Linked DNA regions of Homo sapiens. The protein of the gene in region 1 purifies or fractionates together with the protein of each later gene. This does not show direct contact. Each region holds a gene or a part of one and is shown on either strand. Other genes may lie near its edges. The genes, in order: PXYLP1, GNPTG and WDTC1.

The links.
Region 2: the proteins of PXYLP1 (region 1) and GNPTG purify together in Homo sapiens (affinity purification with mass spectrometry; one large-scale study listed by BioGRID and IntAct). This does not show direct contact.
Region 3: the proteins of PXYLP1 (region 1) and WDTC1 purify together in Homo sapiens (affinity purification with mass spectrometry; one large-scale study listed by BioGRID and IntAct). This does not show direct contact.

What each region holds. Positions count from the first base shown.
Region 1 is NC_000003.12:141,276,818-141,280,466, reverse strand, and holds part of PXYLP1 (2-phosphoxylose phosphatase 1), read right to left. Parts: intron 2,126-3,649; coding exon 1,967-2,125; intron 1,090-1,966; coding exon 963-1,089; intron 1-962. UniProt on the Homo sapiens protein: Responsible for the 2-O-dephosphorylation of xylose in the glycosaminoglycan-protein linkage region of proteoglycans thereby regulating the amount of mature glycosaminoglycan (GAG) chains.
Region 2 is NC_000016.10:1,358,282-1,361,930, forward strand, and holds part of GNPTG (N-acetylglucosamine-1-phosphotransferase subunit gamma precursor), read left to right. Parts: intron 1-3,461; coding exon 3,462-3,516; intron 3,517-3,590; coding exon 3,591-3,649. UniProt on the Homo sapiens protein: Non-catalytic subunit of the N-acetylglucosamine-1-phosphotransferase complex, an enzyme that catalyzes the formation of mannose 6-phosphate (M6P) markers on high mannose type oligosaccharides in the Golgi apparatus.
Region 3 is NC_000001.11:27,286,516-27,290,164, forward strand, and holds part of WDTC1 (WD and tetratricopeptide repeats protein 1), read left to right. Parts: intron 1-1,158; coding exon 1,159-1,346; intron 1,347-3,649. UniProt on the Homo sapiens protein: May function as a substrate receptor for CUL4-DDB1 E3 ubiquitin-protein ligase complex.

The DNA.
Region 1 (3,649 bases):
GGGCAGAGGCAGCCAGGCCAACTGGTCCCTAGGAACTGAACCTCTCAAATGGGAGCGCCAAAAATGGCCCCATTAGAGGGTCCTGGCATCACTGTGACAGGGGCCCTGCAAGACGAGCTACAAAGTGTCACTTTTAAAGAACAGCCCTGGCTGTAGTGAGGTAATCCATGGCTCCACCAGGCTCGCCCTCCCGGGGCAGGCTGGCATCCCAGAAGCATTCCATCAAAATAACGTCTTCCCCACTGAGCACTTCATCTCCTGACCTCATTCACTAAACTCTGCTAGAATGTTATGTGCCTCCAGACACATTTGCTGAGGTCTAGCCCAATATTTTATTGCTAACTATGCCTCTAATTTTAGAGCCATGCCATTTCCATACAATTTCCACACTCTGTTCAATTATTTTTCATCCTAAGGGCTTTCAACCAAGAACAGGCTGCCTCTACTCCAGTGAAAAATTAGAAGGGTGAAATAATTCTTACATTTATATGGCTCTGCAATTGCTAACGTGCATTTGTCTGTGTCATCTCACTTACTCTTTGCCCCAACTTTGCATGGGGAGCCTTGTGATCCCCGTTTCAGAGGTAGGAGGCTGAGGCTCAGAGGACACTAAGGGGCTTGCCCGCTGCTCTGAATGGAGCAGGTGAGCTGGGGCGGAGGACTCTTAACTCAGTGCTCACTGTACTGTGTCCCAACTGTTTATTAAAGTGAAAAACATCAGGGTGGGAGGGTGAGCCTCAGACTGGCCTGGGCTCAGTATATCTGCTGTGTTGCTTCAAACAGGTGTCCCCGCCTCTGTGGGCCTCCATCTTTTCAACTGTATAATGGCACTCACATGTAGGACTGCTCTGAGCTCAGGCTCCTGCAAACAGTATGGTTCACCAAGTGTAGGTCCTGTCATTCTCTATCCTACAGGATATAACAGACACTTGAAAATGACTTTTAGAAAAAGTGCAATTTACCTGTTAGCCACCAGAGTGCAGTCAATTTCTGGTCGCTTTGTTTTGGGAATGACATACAGTGGGTACCTGTCTCCGTGGCGAATGAACACATGCACTGAGACCAGCTTAAAATGATGCGGGGCATGACCTGCGCGAGAGAAGCACATTGTCTGGTTATCACTCAATAGGTGTCAATCCTTTTAGAAGGGGGCCAAGGGGATGACCTGGCCACATTTGGGCTGGGAATCTGAGCCGGAGGCAGCAGGGGCCACCGTGGGTTTGCAGAGCCACCACAGTGAAGGGGCCCTGGCTGCCATTCTGGATGGGGGCCACTGAATAGTCTTACAAGGCGGGACAGAGGAACATGAGTAGGCTGATTATGTCCCAGACCTCCTGGAAACAACGGGAGGCTGGTGAAATGCGGGCATGACTACTAATGTGGCCTCACTCACATGCACAGACCAGGGAGAGAGCCACGGAAATACTAGAAACAATGATTTCTGCTTTAAATCTTTCATGAGACCAGAGAAGGCATAAAGAGATCAATAAGGATTCAACACTATGCTCTGATACACTTTTACAAAAGCAAAACTTGTAGAAATTGCCTCACTTCTATGGCAAGACGCCAGCAGGACATCCTGTGGACATCCTGAGTCCCAAGAGGCTACCCTGAAAAGCAGAGTGTCTCAATGTGCTGCACTAGTGCCTGCCAAGGCCACCTTTCTACCTTGCTGCTGTCTCACTAAAGATCATGATGATGGCAAACATTTGTGGTGGGTTGATCGTGAGCCACGTGGTATGTTCAGAGCAGTTACTGAAACCTCCCCAGTCCCAGGCATAAGTCCTGTGAGTTACTCCCATTTTATAGAGGAGAATGCAAGGACCCAGGAACTCATTCAAGGGCACAGCCTGGTGGCAACTGCAGGACTTGGGTCCTGGCCATCTTGCTCCTTACTGCTGTGCAATGCTGCTGGAATAACTAGTCCCCAAAGGGGTATCTGTCCTGGTGGCACAGTCAGGCCTACCTTCCATGCTGCGCTCGGCCACGCTGGGGATGTTGCAGTACAAAAGAGCTTCATAAACGGGGTCTGTCACAGGGGGCTCCGTCACAGGGTCGGGCATGATTCTCTTTCGACTCTTGCTACTCATTCCATTCTTAGGAGTCGACACCGGGATCAGGTGGACTGAAACGAAGTAAGGCAGGTTGTGACGCACAGTTCCTGGGGCGCCAGGCCAGCTGCAAGGCCCAGCGCAGGGCTGGATTTCACTTTGAGGAGCTATTCTTACACTGAGAATCAAGGTGCACTTCAGTGGAGCAGAAGTCAGCTTCCCATTCAAGAAGGGCTTCTGAGCCCCACTGTGTCCTGCCCCTTCGTCACTGCCACTACCCTCTCCTTATCATCTATTCAACACCAGGGGAGCCTCCCAAGCAAAGGGGCCTCTCTCAGGGCAGTTGGAGGAAGAACTCACACACTAACTTCTTAGGACCTGATTACCTCTTCCTAATGCCCTTTAATTCCAGTAACAACAAGAAGGAGGAAAACCATCATTCCTCATTGAAGACCTGCTAGGTGCCAGATGTGGGTGTCTGACATATCCCATTTATCATCATCTGCTTTATGCTTTGTGGGCCTTCAGAGTCGCTCATCTAACCCATGAGAGCACTTTACAGAAGAAAGCCAAGGACCAAGGCATGTGTGGTGGGTGAAAGCCTGTCTCACGCTTACTCCTTGACTTCAGGCCAGCTTCCCTGCCACTGTCTTCGGCGTGGCATGTGTGGGTCTTGCAATCTGTGTGCTTGTCCATCTACTACCCTCATTCCATTAGTGAGCTGACCCTTCACCACCACGTGTGGTCAGGCTGGACTGTCAATCACAGTGTCCCCACCCCCTGGCAGGGGTGGACATGTGACCAGAGTCAATAAGGGTAGTAATGGGGCAACTGGACTCCCTTTCCTCGAGACAGGTGATATACAGACTCTAGAAGAGGTGCTCTTTTTCTTTCGGATGCTAATCTGTAAGAATGGAAATGTGGGGCTGCCCAGCCATCTATCCCTCATGAACAGCTTCTGTCTCAGTGGTCCCTAATCTCTCCGTGCCTAGGGAATGTCTTTGTAGCATCATAGATCCTCTAGAACTCCCAACACAGTATAGTCATACTTTCAGCATCCGCCCTTTGAGGGAAACACATGAAAATAAGTGTGCTCACAGATCTTTTTAACTTCTAAAAGATTTATTAATCACCATAATATCTACACATGCGCACGAACAATAGCTAAAACAGGGACCAACCACCAGCCTAAATCAATGTAAATTCCCTAATTACTTCTACAAATTCTTCTACATAAATATTTAAAACTTCCCTTTGGCAAACAGATGCCATAAACAAAGATAAAAGGCAACACACTGAGAGAAAAATATTTGCAACTAACCTAACAGACAAATGATTAATATCCAAAGTCCATAAGAGACCCTACACCTGAAAAATCATTAAAGGATATGAACAGGCTAATCGCAGAAAAATAAATACCAATGGCCAATAAACACATGAAGAGATGCTTAAGTTTGTTCATAATTAGATACAGATAAAACAACAGTGTGATACTGTTTTTCATAATTGTTTATTCATAATTAAAGAAATATAAATCAAACAGTGGACTATATTAATAATTTTTCCTCATCAAACTGGAAAATCATGTTTTAATGATA
Region 2 (3,649 bases), on another chromosome or scaffold:
TGCCCCGCTCCCCCAGCCCCGGCACCCACCATTCTGCTGTCTCTGAACTTGGCTATTCATAGACGTCACATAGGTGACTCATAACTGTGTGCGACCTTTTGTGTCTGACCAACTCCTCTTGGCACAGTGTCCCCAAGGTCCCCCAGGCTGGAGGCTCTCAGTGCTTCCTTTTTATATGGCTGAGGACTGTTCCACTGCAAGGACAGACCACGTTGTTGTTTACCCGTCATCTGTCCATGGACACTGGAGTGGCTTCCACCCTCTGCCTGGGAATAGGCTGCTGTGAACTTGGGTGTAAATATTTGAGTCTCTGCTTCCAATTTCTGAGAGTAGCTTTGCTGGATCTTATTAGAATTCCATGTTTAGCTTTTTGAGGAACCACCAAACTGTTTGCATAGTGGCTGCACCGTTTCCCATTCCAGCCAGCATTGCACGAGGGGTCCAGTTTCTCCACATTTTCACCAACACTGTTTTTTGCTAACAGCCATCCTAGTGGGTGTGAAGCGGTACCTTAGGGTTGTTTTAATTTGCATTTCCCTAATGATCAGTCATGTGGGATCTTTTCAGTTGCTTATGGTGTTTGTCCTTTTTTTTTTTTGAGATGGAGTCTCACTCTGTGGCCCAGACTGGAGTACAGTGGCGCCATCTTGGCTCACTGCAAGCTCTGCCTCCCAGGCTCAGGCGATTCTCCTGCCTCAGCCTCTCAAGTAGCTGGGATTACAGGCGTGAGCCACCACACCTGGCTCATTTTTATTTAGTAGAGACGGGGTTTCACCATGTTGGCCAGGCTGGTCTCAAACTCCTGACCTCATGATCCGCCTGCCTCGGCCTCCCGAAGTGCTGGGATTCCCGGCTTCTCTGCCCATTTTTAACTTGAGTTTATTGTTGGGCTGTAGTTCTGTGTTCTGGATGTGAGTCTCTTACATACGTGGTTTGCCAGTGTTTATTTTCTCCCATTCTGTGGGTTGTCTTTTCACTCCCTTGATGGGTTTGTTTTTTTTTCCATATAGAGTCTAACTCTGTAGCCCAGGCTGGAGTGCAGTAGCACGATCTTGGCTCACGGCAACCTCTCCACCTCCCAGGCTCAAGGAATTCTCCTGCCTCAGCCTCCCGAGTAGCTGGGACTGCAGGCATCCGCCATCACGCCTGGCTAATTTTTTTGTACTTTATTAGAGATCAGGTTTCACCATGTTGGCCAGGATGGTCTCGATCTCCTGACTTCGTGATCCGTCTGCCTCGGCCTCCCAAAGCACTGGGATTACAGGCGTGAGACCCTGCGCCCGGCCTCTATGCCAGTCTTTATGCCAGTATCACACTGTTTTGATCATAACAGCTTTGAAGTAATTTTTGGAATCAGTATGTACGAGTCTCTCAACTCTGTCTTTAAGATTTGTTCGATGATTTGGGGTCCTCTGAGACTCCCTATGAACTTTAGGATGTGTTTTTCTATTTCTGCAAAAACTGTCATTGGGGTTTTGATGGGGTTGCATTGAATCTGCAGATCACTCTGGGTGGTATTGTCATCTTAAAAATATTGAATCCATCAGGCTGGGCGCTGGGGCTCACGCCTGTAATCCCAGTACTTTAGGAGGCTGAGGCAGGTGGATCACCTGAGGTCAGGAGTTTGAGACCATCCTGGCCAACATGGAGAAACCCCGTCTCTACAAAAATACAAAAATTAGCCAGCCGTGATGGCAGGCACCGGTAATCCTAGCTACTGGGGAGACTGAGGCGGGAAAATCGGTTGAACCCAGTGGTGGAGATTGTAGTGAGCCAAGATCGTGCCACTGCAATCCAGCCTGGCGACAATGCTAGACTCCGTCTCAAAAAAAAAAAAGTGGCGTATGGATGTCTCATGTCAGCTTTATGTAGTGGGTGGCACTGTTTGTGCGTGGATAATTGTGGTGTCTTGGCACATTGACCCTTTTATCAATGTATAACATCTTTGTCTCTTAAAATAGTTTCAGCCACTTCAGCTCTCTTTTGCCTGTTTATATGAATACTTTTCCATACCTTCACTTTCAACCTGTTTATGTCTTTAAATCTGAAGTTAGTCTTTCAGGCCGGGCATAGTGGCTCACACCTGTAATCCCAGCACTTGGGAGGCCAAGGTGGACGGATCACTTCAGGTCCACAGTTGCAGACCAGCCTGGCCAACACAGTGAAACCCCGCCTCTGCTGAAGATACAAAAATTAGCTGGGCGTGGTGGCGGGCACGTGGGATCCCAGCTACTCGGGAGGCTGAGGCAGGGGAATCACTTGAACCCAGGAGGCGGAGGTTGCAGTGAGCCGAGATCGCGCCACTGCATTTCACCTTGGGTGACAGAGTGAGACTGTCTCCAAAAGAAAAAAAAGAATCTAATGCCTGATGAGCTGAGGTGGAACAGTTTCATCCCCAAACCACCCATCCCCACCCCCGGCTGGTAGAAAAACTGCCTTCCATGAAACCAGTCCCTGGTGCCAAAAAGATTGGGGACCACTGGTTTAAGTCCTGTAGCTTTACAGACCATAGCTAGAAAGGCAACTGGTATTAATTCACCCTGCACGAGGACCTCCGTCTGCCTCCGCTGAGCTGCTGTCTGCTCACTTCCCCGGGTGGCACACCGGCCTGCATGTAACCAACTCCTGAAGCTTTTATCTGGGAATGTCCTCTTTTTTGGGGGGTGGGGAAGACAGGGTCTTGCTCTGTCACGCAGGCTGGAGTGCAGTGGTACGATCTCAGCTCACTGCACTCTCCACCTCCTGGGTTCAAGAGATTCTCCTGCCTCAGCCTCCTGAGTAGCTGGGATTACAGGTGCGCGCCACTACACTCAGCTCATTTTTTCTGTGTGCTTTTTGTGTAGACACGGGGTTCTCACAGTGTTGCCCAGGCTGGTGTCATACTCCTGGCCTCAAGCAATCTTCCCGCCTTGGCCTCCCAAAGTGCTGGGATTACAGGCATGAGCCACGATAGCAAGCCTTAACTCTAATTTTTGAAGGGCTATTTTTAGAATTCTCGGTTTTGTCAGTTTCTTCCATTGAATGGTACCTGTTTTCCTGTTTCTTTGAACGTCTTGTGCTTTTTGTTGAAAACTGGTCCTTGGCCGGGCGCGGTGGCTCAAACCTGTAATCCCAGCACTTTGGGAGGCCGAGGTGGGTGGATCACGAGGTCAGGAGATCGAGACCATCCTGGCTAACGCGGTGAAACCCCGTCTCTACTAAAAATACAAAAAATTAGCCGGGCATGGTGGCGGGCGCCTGTAGTCCCAGCTACTTGGGAGGCTGAGGCAGGAGAATGGCGTGAACATGGGAGGCGGAGCTTGAAGTGAGCCAAGATCATGCCACTGCACTCCAGCCTGGGTGACAGAGTGAGACTCCATCTCAAAAAAAAAGAAAACTGGTCCTTTGAAAACAGACTCTGCCAGTCTTTGCAGACAGGTTCTGTGCTTGGACCCTGGGGATCAGTGTGAGGTCTCTTCCAGGACCCGTGCATCTCTTCCGACTCTCGGGCAAGTGCTTCAGCCTGGTGGAGTCCACGTGAGTGCAGGGTGGGTGCGAGGGTGGGCTGGGGCGCAGCCTGCGGACCCCCCTCATGCCATCTGTGTCCCCAGGTACAAGTATGAGTTCTGCCCGTTCCACAACGTGACCCAGCACGAGCAGACCTTCCGCT
Region 3 (3,649 bases), on another chromosome or scaffold:
CTGGAGTGCAGTGGCGTGATCTCAGCTCACTGCAAGCTCTGCCTCCTGGGTTCACACCATCCTCCTGCCTCAGCCTCCCGAGTAGCTGGGACTACAGGCGCACGCCCGGCTAATTTTTTTATATTTTTAGTAGAGACGGGGTTTCACCGTGTTAGCCAGGATGGTCTGGATCTCCTGACCTTGTGATCTGCCCGCCTCAGCCTCCCAAAGTGCTGGGATTATAGGCATGAGCCACCACGCCTGGCCTGGATTATTTCTTGGAAGTGGAAGTTTTGAGTCAAAAACTAGAAATTGTTTTTAATCTTTGTTACTATTACCAGATTGTTTTTCAGAAGCAGTCAAACTAATTTAAAACACTCACTCCCAACAGGGCATTCTGGCTCATGCCTACAATCCCAGCACTTTGGGAGGCCAAGGCAGGTGGATCACCTGAGGTCAGGAGTTCGAGACCAGCCTGGCCAACATGGTGAAACCCTGTCTCTACTAAAAATACAAAAATTAGCTGGGCGTGGTGGTGCACACCTGTAATCCCAGCTACTCAGGAGGCTGACACAGGAGAATCGCTTGAACCCGGGAGGTGGAAGTTGCAGTGAGCCGAGATTGCACCACTGCACTCCAGCCTGGGTGACAGAGCGAGACGCTGTCTCAAAAAAAAAAAACAAAAAAAACCCACACACACCCATTCCCTTAAACACTCAAAGTCTTTTTCACTTCAGGACTAATTTATTACTTAATCTCTAGGTTACTAAGTAGTCATAATGAGGCAAGTAGGGCATGTGGGAGTCAGACAGACTTGGGCTTGAACACAATCTTGCTGTATATTACTGCTGAACCTCAAGGGTTTGTTTTGTTTTTTGTTGTTGTTGTTGTTTTTGAGACAGTCTCGCTCTGTTGCCCAGGCTGGAGTGCAGTGGCACAATCTCGGCTCACTGCAGCCTCTGGCTTCCTGCAGCCTCTGCCTCCTGGGTTCAAGGGATTTTCCTGCCTCAGCCTGCTGAGCAGCTGGGATTACAGGCATGAGCCACCGCGCCCAGCCTGCATGGGCTCATTCTCTTATCTGACATGGAGAGAGAAAAGGGTGCAGACATCCAGGCTAGCCTCCTTCCGTGGCCATTTCTACTCTTACCACCCACCCCTTCCTCCATTTCTCCTATATAGTTCCTGCCTCACGCTGGGGACCGCATCTTGATCACGGGGGCAGCCGACTCTAAGGTGCATGTGCACGACCTGACAGTAAAGGAGACCATCCACATGTTTGGAGACCACACAAACCGGGTGAAGCGCATCGCCACAGCGCCCATGTGGCCCAACACATTCTGGAGTGCTGCTGAGGATGGGCTTATCCGGTAAGAGTCTGGGGCATCTAGTGGAGCCTGTCGCTCCCCCATCCCATCATCCTATAGTGTTTCCTTCTACAGACCTAGCTCTTTCCCTCCAGCAGAGGTCCAACCTCCTTTGTCTGCCCAGGGCAGTTGTCTGTGTACAAACTCCACTGGGAACATTTGCTTACTCCGCCCTCACCTTCCTCCCTCTTTGCCCTCCTTTGTACTACCTCTAGGCCCACAAGCTTTTTCTCACCACCTCAGGTGTCCAGGGTCTCTACTGCCTCTGGGCATTCACGTTACTCTTTCCTCTACTTGAGATTCTCTGTCCCCAGCTCTTCCCATGTCGGACTCTTTCTTATCCTAAGGAGATCAGCTTCAGTTACCTCTTCAGAAGCACCTTCTCTGACCATCCTGTCTAAAGTAGACAGACGTTATGCTTGTTTTAACAATTATATCCTCTGTAACTCTAATTGCCACCTGTAGTTATTTTTATTAATTAATTAATTTTTATTTATTTATTTTTTTTTTTATTGATCATTCTTGGGTGTTTCTCGCAGAGGGGGATTTGGCAGGGTCATATGACAATAGTGGAGGGAAGGTCAGCAGATTAACAAGTGAACAAAGGTCTCTGGTTTTCCTAGGCAGAGGACCCTGCGGCCCTCTGCAGTGTTTGTGTCCCTGGGTACTTGAGATTAGGGAGTGGTGATGACTCTTAATGAGCATGCTGCCTTCAAGCATCTGTTTAACAAAGCACATCTTGCACCGCCCTTAATCCATTTAACCCTGAGTGGACACAGCACATGTTTCAGAGAGCACAGGGTTGGGGGTAAGGTCACAGATCAACAGGATCCCAAGGCAGAAGAATTTTTCTTAGTACAGAACAAAATGAAAAGTCTCCCATGTCTACTTCTTTCTACACAGACACGGCAACCATCCGATTTCTCAATCTTTTCCCCACCTTTCCCCCCTTTCTATTCCACAAAACCGCCATTGTCATCCTGGCCCGTTCTCAATGAGCTGTTGGGTACACCTCCCAGACGGGGTGGTGGCCAGGCAGAGGGGCTCCTCACTTCCCAGTAGGGGTGGCCGGGCAGAGGCACCCCTCACCTCCCGGACGGGGCGGCTGGCCGGGCGGGGGGCTGACCCCCCCCCCACCTCCCTCCCGGACGGGGCGGCTGGCTGGGCGGGGGGCTGACCCCCCCACCTCCCTCCCGGACGGGGCGGCTGGCCGGGCAGGGGGCTGACCCCCCCACCTCCCTCCTGGACGGGGCGGCTGGCTGGGCAGAGGGGCTCCTCACTTCCCAGTAGGGGCGGCCGGGCAGAGGCGCCCCTCACCTCCCGGACGGGGCGGCTGGCCGGGCAGAGGGGCTCCTCACTTCCCAGACGGGGTGGTTGCCGGGCGGAGAGGCTCCTCACTTCTCAGACGGGGCGGCTGCCGGGCAGAGGGGCTCCTCAGTTCTCAGACGGGGTGGTTGCCAGGCAGAGGGTCTCCTCACTTCTCAGACGGGGCGGCTGGGCAGAGACGCTCTTCACCTCCCAGACGGGGTCGCGGCCGGGCAGAGGCGCTCCTCACATCTCAGACGATGGGCGGCCGGGCAGAGACGCTCCTCACTTCCTAGATGGGATGGCGGCCGGGCAGAGACGCTCCTCACTTTCCAGACTGGGCAGCCAGGCAGAGGGGCTCCTCACATCCCAGACGATGGGCGGCCAGGCAGAGACGCTCCTCACTTCCCAGACGGGATGGCGGCCAGGCAGAGGCTGCAATCTCGGCACTTTGGGAGGCCAAGGCAGGCGGCTGGGAGGTGGAGGTTGTAGCAAGCCGAGATCACGCCACTGCACTCCAGCCTGGGCACCATTGAGCACTGAGTGAACGAGACTCCGTCTGCAATCCCGGCACCTCGGGAGGCCGAGGCTGGCGGATCACTCGCGGTTAGGAGCTGGAGACCGGCCCGGCCAACACAGCGAAACCCCGTCTCCACCAAAAAAATACGAAAACCAGTCAGGCGTGGCGGCACGCGCCTGCAATCGCAGGCACTCGGCAGGCTGAGGCAGGAGAATCAGGCAGGGAGATTGCAGTGAGCCGAGATGGCAGCAGTACAGTCCAGCTTCGGCTCGGCATCAGAGAGAGACCGTGGAAAGAGAGGGAGAGGGAGACCGTGGAAAGAGAGGGAGAGGGAGACCGTGGGGAGAGGGAGAGGGAGACCGTGGGGAGGGGGAGGGGGAGAGGGAGAGGGAGCTAATTAATTTATTTTCTGAGACAGGGTCTCACTCCATTCTATTGCCGAGGTTGGAGTGCAGTGGCGTGATCATGGCTCACTGCAGCC